Homo sapiens: one gene and its partner. The protein of the gene in region 1 interacts with the protein of each later gene in a pairwise test. Each region holds a gene or a part of one and is shown on either strand. Other genes may lie near its edges. The genes, in order: RNASE6 and ARR3.

Evidence for each region.
Region 2: the proteins of RNASE6 (region 1) and ARR3 interact in a two-hybrid assay, tested with the Homo sapiens proteins (one large-scale study listed by BioGRID and IntAct).

The regions. Positions count from the first base shown.
Region 1 is NC_000014.9:20,779,746-20,782,975, forward strand, and holds RNASE6 (ribonuclease K6 precursor), read left to right. Parts: upstream 1-1,522; 5' UTR 1,523-1,593; intron 1,594-1,949; 5' UTR 1,950-1,954; coding exon 1,955-2,407; 3' UTR 2,408-2,722; downstream 2,723-3,230. UniProt on the Homo sapiens protein: Ribonuclease which shows a preference for the pyrimidines uridine and cytosine.
Region 2 is NC_000023.11:70,274,563-70,278,385, reverse strand, and holds part of ARR3 (arrestin-C), read right to left. Parts: intron 2,305-3,823; coding exon 2,105-2,304; intron 1,954-2,104; coding exon 1,894-1,953; intron 1,718-1,893; coding exon 1,650-1,717; intron 993-1,649; coding exon 857-992; intron 671-856; coding exon 586-670; intron 321-585; coding exon 248-320; intron 1-247. UniProt on the Homo sapiens protein: May play a role in an as yet undefined retina-specific signal transduction. Could bind to photoactivated-phosphorylated red/green opsins.

The DNA of each region.
Region 1 (3,230 bases):
TCAAGTTGAGAGGAAATGACATCTTAACATATTGAGTATTCCTACTCATGTACATGGAATATCTGTGCTTCCTCAATTTCTTTCATTAGAGTTTTAAATTTTTCCTCATACCAATTTTTACATAATGTATTAGATTTACACCTAAGTATTTCACTTTCTTTGGTGCAATATAAATGGTATTGTGTTTTAAATATCAAATTGCAATTGTTCATTGCTGGTATATAAGAAAGCAACTGACTTTTGTATATTAACCTTGTATCCTGCAACCTTGCTATAAACAGACATTATGTTTATTCTGCAGACATTTGGAGCCATAAAAGCATGGGGCAAGAGTGTTGTACTATTATATCTTGTTCAAAAAAAGACTAATCTGGAAGTAATATGTAGAATGGATTGGAAGGAGAAAAAAACAAGGCAAGGAGTCCATGTGGGAGGCTTTTATGTGAGCCCTCCATAAGACAATGAGTTTCTGAATAAGGGTGTTGCAGTACCAGTGAAAAGGTAAGAACAGATTCAAGAGGCAAATATCCTAAATTCGGCCTTCTTCTTCAGGCTTACAGGTCTTTTCATACACAATTCTGTCTTTGGGAGGCGCTTAACACTCTCTTCACCTAACTTCTAATTATTCCTCAAAATTCAGTTCAGGTGTTGTGCCCTCCAACAATCCTTCCCCTCTACTATCTTCCCGTAGCCTCCTGCAGTGTCCTCCATCACACTGTAAGTGCTATTTATATTAATATAATCTACTTGTCTATATACTTACCTGCCTGTCTCTAATCTCTTTCATTAAATCATGAGCTCCTGGCAGATCACGAGGTCAGGAGATAGAGACCATCCTGGCTAACACAGTGAAACCCCGTCTCTACTAAAAATACAAAAAAATTAGCTGGGCGTGATGGCAGGCACCTGTAGTCCCAGCTACTCGGGAGGCTGAGGCAGGAGAATGGCATGAACCCAGGAGGTGGAGCTTGCAGTGAGCAAAGATCGCACCACTGCACTCCAGCCTGGGCGACAGAGCAAGACTCCGTCTCAAAAAAAAAAAAAAAAAAAACTCATGAGCTCCTGAATTTGTGTAGCCTAGTACCTGGCCCAATAAGTATATGCATAAATGAATAATGTATTCACTTCTGTTGTAGGAACTTACAACATTACCAAGTATGTGGCAGGCATTATATCATATTTATGTGACATATTTTCTCTTAAGAAACAGGAATCATAAAGCTTCAAAAAAAAACACTGAAGCCTCAGATGAGGCAGGAAGCACTCATTCCATATCAGGAAGTGATCAGTTCCTCAAAACTGTGAGTTTTCAGTCATGTTGTTTCTTTAAGTTGGTTTAGCCTTCCTGTATACATGTGATAATGATACTGTTTTAAAGAACAGGTGTGAAAGTCTAAGAGTTTAATCCAGACTCTGCACAAGAAGTTAATCTGCCAAACCCTAGGATTCTCCTTCTGAAAGCTCAGAATATTTCTTCCCCTTCCCTATACACACAGGGCTCGAAGGGTTAGAGAAGAAAGGCAGACAACAGCTTCTGAGCTTTGGACTAATCACAGCCTCTGTTCTCAGCAGGAGCCCCAACACTGAGACCAGGTAAGAAAGAAAGCCTCAGGGCTGGAGCGAGTAGAGCAGTAAAGACGGCTGGGAGGTAGTGGTCAGATAGAGGGTAAATATTTCAGGAGGGAAGAGGGAAGAAACTTTCTGATATGACAGCCATCAAATGCATGAGTACTTGTGAAAGAAAATGGGATATGCCAATCAAAGGAGAGGTCATATTTCTGTTTCCTGGGCTTCAGGTTCTTCATAGAATTGTGAGACTATGTGAGAAAGAAGATTTTAAAGGGAGCTGTAAAATCTTAAAAGGCAAAATAAAAATCTAAATAGTTATGATTAAAAATTTTGCTCTTATTGCTTCTCCTACTATAACTATCTTCTCTCTTTCTACACAGAAAAGATGGTGCTATGCTTTCCTCTTCTTTTACTGCTGCTGGTTCTATGGGGACCAGTGTGTCCACTTCATGCTTGGCCTAAGCGTCTCACCAAGGCTCACTGGTTTGAAATTCAGCATATACAGCCAAGTCCTCTCCAATGCAACAGGGCAATGAGTGGCATCAACAATTATACCCAGCACTGTAAGCATCAAAATACCTTTCTGCATGACTCTTTCCAGAATGTGGCTGCTGTCTGTGATTTGCTCAGCATTGTCTGCAAAAATCGTCGGCACAACTGCCACCAGAGCTCAAAGCCTGTCAACATGACTGACTGCAGACTCACTTCAGGAAAGTATCCCCAGTGCCGCTATAGTGCTGCTGCCCAGTACAAATTCTTCATTGTTGCCTGTGACCCCCCTCAGAAGAGCGATCCCCCCTACAAGTTGGTTCCTGTACACTTAGATAGTATTCTCTAAGGCATCCACTGCATTTCCTTTCATTTGACATAGCTTCTGTTACAATTGCATCCATGTTTTCTTTTCTTTTGTTGATTTTCTTGTTCCCGTAGAAGAAAGAAGAAAGGTGTTTGGAGAATTCGAGTGCCTAGGATGCCAGACCAGAGTTGAGACAAAAAGAAATAAGATTATTTTCTGCTTTGTAGTTCTGTACTTTTCGAGAGAAGGGAATAGGGAAGACAGCAAAGAAAGATTCAGATTTCTAACCCTGCAACTTTTGCCAAGCTTTATTGCCCTGTGTTCACAGCAATAAAACCACTTCCTGCTGCATTCTAATGAGTGTGTGTTTGAGATCCGCTTTCAAAGCATTGTTGACCGGTACTCAGAGGAACACTGTTTTGACTTTAAGTCCCTAGAAAACTTTTGAGGCCTCCCTGGGGCCCCACTTCCTTGCCCACAAGAAAGGACAGCGTTTGGGACTTTGGAGCATTTCTTCAAACTCTGCTCATGACTTTATATATTCCCCTGGAAACCATTGTCTATGCTTAATTGGAGGTAGTACTGATACCTCAAAGACAGTTGATGATAACTCACACATAGATTCTGTCACTGGCAACTGAAGGATCCTATGTCTTTTCTATTTGTTTCCGTTTTTAATCAGATAATGTTTTAAATATAAGGTGATAGTAGTAGTAATAGGGATAATAATCCATTGTAGTAACCTTAGGGTCAATCCTCCATTATTTATTGAAATGGATAAATAGAAAGCATAGATCAAGAAAAAAGCACTAGGCTTGTCGTGGTGGCTCACGCCTGTAATCCCAGCACTTTAGGAGGCTGAGGC
Region 2 (3,823 bases), on another chromosome or scaffold:
AACATGTTTAACTGAAGACTGGGAGAAATTAGTTCTGGTGGGAAATCCTTATGCCCCTGCCCTCGCTCAGCATCGTGATGGGACTCCTGGGGGTAAGTTGCATCCCCTCCATCTAGTTCTCCTGGGAATCCCTCCCTGGAATCTTCCACCACTCTTCTCCCCCACTCTACCCCCTCAACTGCCTCCTGGACCTCTTCCCACCACCCCACCCCTTGGCTCTCTGGTCCTAGCCCCAGCACCAGCTCACGTGAATTCCTGAATGAACACAGTCTTGGTGTACTTGTCTAGTGAATACAGGACAACATCTGTGATCTGGTCAACTGAACAAGCCAGGAAAAGCACATGATTATAATCAGTCAGTCATCCTTGAGACCCCAGCTCAGTGTCCTTAGATGTGACCTTATACATAGGCACACTATACATGATGCAGTGAGACATGCTCATTGACAAAACAAGATATGCATTTTGACAAGCCCATGTTAGAGGGAAAGCCTAGATGAATGCAGACAGGTAAGTGAGATAGAATTTTGGGAAAAGACCTGTGGCTTTGGGACCAGGTGCACAGGGATGGGAAAAGAAACTCACCTGAAATCTTGATTTTTTTGATGACCTTGTTGGTGCAGTTGTTGATAGAAACATTGACAGAGATGGGTTCTCCGTGGTAGTGAACCTAAAGCAGGAGCGGGGACCCATGTCAAGGCTGGAGGACGAATACGCAGATGGAGACCTAGAACCCCTGCTTCCTTAGCGCTATTGCCACCCTGGCTCCCATCTCTGCCTGCCCAAGTAGGAAATCAGTGAAGAAAGGGCATCAGAGGGGTTCTGGGGTGGGAGGCAAAAAGTGGGGGTCACAAACCTCCCTGTCCATCCAGGCCTGGAGTTGTAGGGGCTGAGCTGACAGAAGGAAGCGGCGGATGGTCTGGGCTGAGGGGCCAGGGCCTGCCTCCGGTGGTGCAAATTGTACTTTCCGGACAACCAGCCGCACATAGTCTCTGAGCAGAGACCAAGAGATTAGCCAGAGCGTCCTCCTTTCAGACCCACAGACCTCTCCCATGCCACCCCCATAGTCCAATTGTTGCTTAAGAATGGGAGCAGGGGAAGGCCTCCCTCAGAGAACTCCTCTAGTCCCTTAATGTAAGCATGTAGACCAAAGGTTATTAAACTATGGCCCACTGGCCAAATCTGGCCTGATGCCTGTTTTCCTATGGCCCACAAGCTGAGAATGGTTATATTACATTTGTAAATGGTTGAAATAAATCAAAGAACAATGCTATTTTGTGACATGTGGACATTACATGAAATTCAAATTTCAGTGTCCATAAGTAAAGTTCTATTGGACACACAGCCACACTCATTCATTTCTATACTATCTGTGGCTGCGATTGCACTACAACGGCAGAGTTGAGTAGTTGCAACGGAGACTATAGGGCTCAAAAAGCCAAATATTTCTTTTTTTGGCCCATTACAGAAAAGTTTGCTGACCCCTGCCCTAGATCAAAGAAGGTAAGTCAGAGGGGACTCAGAACCGGGTGTCACTGGTGGCGATGAGGCTGTGGAGGTTAGAAGTGGGGCTATTTCTGTCATGAGAGCAGGATCTGTTTCCTGGCAGAGGCTGGAGGCAGGGATTTTTGGGGACAACCAAAGAATACCTCTTGGAGACTGTCTCCTCTGGGTTTTCAGCACAGAAACTCTTCACTTCAAAGTCAATCCCACAGGGCTGTAAAGGGACAAGGGCAAAGAGAGCTCATTTCCAGTGCTGTCCTCCCTTCCTCATGGGCCTATAAGAAAATGCCTGACCTCTTTCCTTAGCTGTCCATTTCTCCAGTCTTGACTGTCCCACTGTTCCTCTTCCCTGGCACTACCTATCCCTCTTTCTTAGAACCCAGTCCTCACCTTTCCTGCATCTTCAGGACCTGGCTGCAGTGTCACAGAACAGGGCAGGTTGGTCACCATCTAGGGGACAAAAAGGAGATCAGAAAAGAAGTAGAAAAGAATACAAACAAATACAAAAGAAATGGGGAACCCTCTCCCTTGTTGTCCTTCTTGAGCTTCCTCTCTTAATCTTCCCTGGAGACCTTGCCTGCCCAGGGCTTGGGGTCAGTACCTGCAGGGTAAAGGGGTAGGCATTGTCCCCTAGCTTGTGCAGTAGTCGCTCCTGTAGGACTGTGAGGGGCCCCTGAGGGCTGCTGGATTCAGCTGGGACCACTTGCAGGGTCTGCACATACAGATCTTTTCGGAACGTCAGACCAATCACTTCCAAGTCATCACGGCCATAGCGAAAGGCACATGTCAACATGACAAACACTGCAGGCATAGGAGGAAGAGAGTGGTCTGTCAGGCCTGAGTGGGAAGGGGAATCTTAACTGGGTCAAGAAGACACAGAGAGGTGATGTAATATGATCGAAGGCTGGCTGGGCGCGGTGGCTCACGCCTGTAATCCCAGCACTTTGGGAGGCCGAGGTGGGTGGATCACGAGGTCAGGAGATAGAAACCACCCTGGCTAACACAGTGAAACCCCATCTCTACTAAAAAAAAAATACAAAGTATTAGCCTGGCTTGGTGGTAGTGGGCGCCTGTAGTCCCAGCTACTTGGGAGGCTGAGGCAGGAGAATGGCGTGAACCCAGGAGGCAGAGCTTGCAGTGAGCCGAGATCGTGTCACTGCCCTCCAGCCTGGGCAACAGAGCAAGACTCTGTCTCAAAAAAAAAAAAAAAAAAAAAAAAAAAAGATTGAAGGCTATGGGCACAAATGAAAAGATTCTTAATACATTTGACTGCAGTAAAATTTATGTTAAAAGTCTTTATAAAGTCTTCTTTATATTCAAAGTCTTTATAAACAAAGAAAAAAATGGAAAGCCTGGGAGAAAATCTTTGCAACACATATAACACACTGAAGTTTAGAGTCCAAAATATATAAGGACTCCCACACATCAACAATAATGCCAGTATAAAACTGTGCAAAGAATGTGAATAGGCCCTTGCAGAAGTGTGCAAAGTGTGTGAAGGAATGGCCAATAACATATGAAAACATGTTTAGTCTCGTGAGTAATCAGATAAATGCAAATTAAAACCACAACGAGATAAGATTTCACACCCATGAGATTGTCAAAAAATTTTAAATGTGACAACACTACGTGTTGATGAAGATGTGGAGCAAAAGGAGTTCTTACATACTGCTGGTGGGAGTATTAATGCAACCAATTTGGAAGACTATTTGGGATTATCCAGTAAAATTAAATCTGCTCGTAGAGTATGAGCTAATAAGTTGACTTTAAAGGAGCTTTTGTTCAGGAGAGATACATATGATAATGGCCGTCGCATCAACGTTTGTCAGAACATAAAACTGGAGATAATCTAAAAATCTATCAACAGGAGAATGGATAAAAAATTTGTGGTATATTCACATAATGGAATACTAAACCAAGGTTAAAATAAATGAGCTAGAACTTCAAAGAATGCCCTATGGTTTGTATGTGGCCTCTCCATAACTCAGGAGTTGAAACTTGATGGTCATTGTGATGGTATTAAGATGGCCATTAAGAGGTGATTAGATCATGGGGCTTCTTTGTTCATGAATTCCTTTATGAATGGGATTAAGACCCTTATAAAGGAGACCTTTTGCCCTTCCACCTTCCACCATGTGAGGACACAATGTTTCTCCCCTCTGGAGGATGCAGCAATAAGGCACCATCTTGGAAGCAGAGAGCAGCCGTCATCAGACAACAGAACCTGCTAGAGCCTTGATCTTAGACTTCCCAGCTTTCAGAATTGTGAGAAAATAAATATCTGTTCTTTATAAATTACCTAGTCTCAGGTATTTTGCTG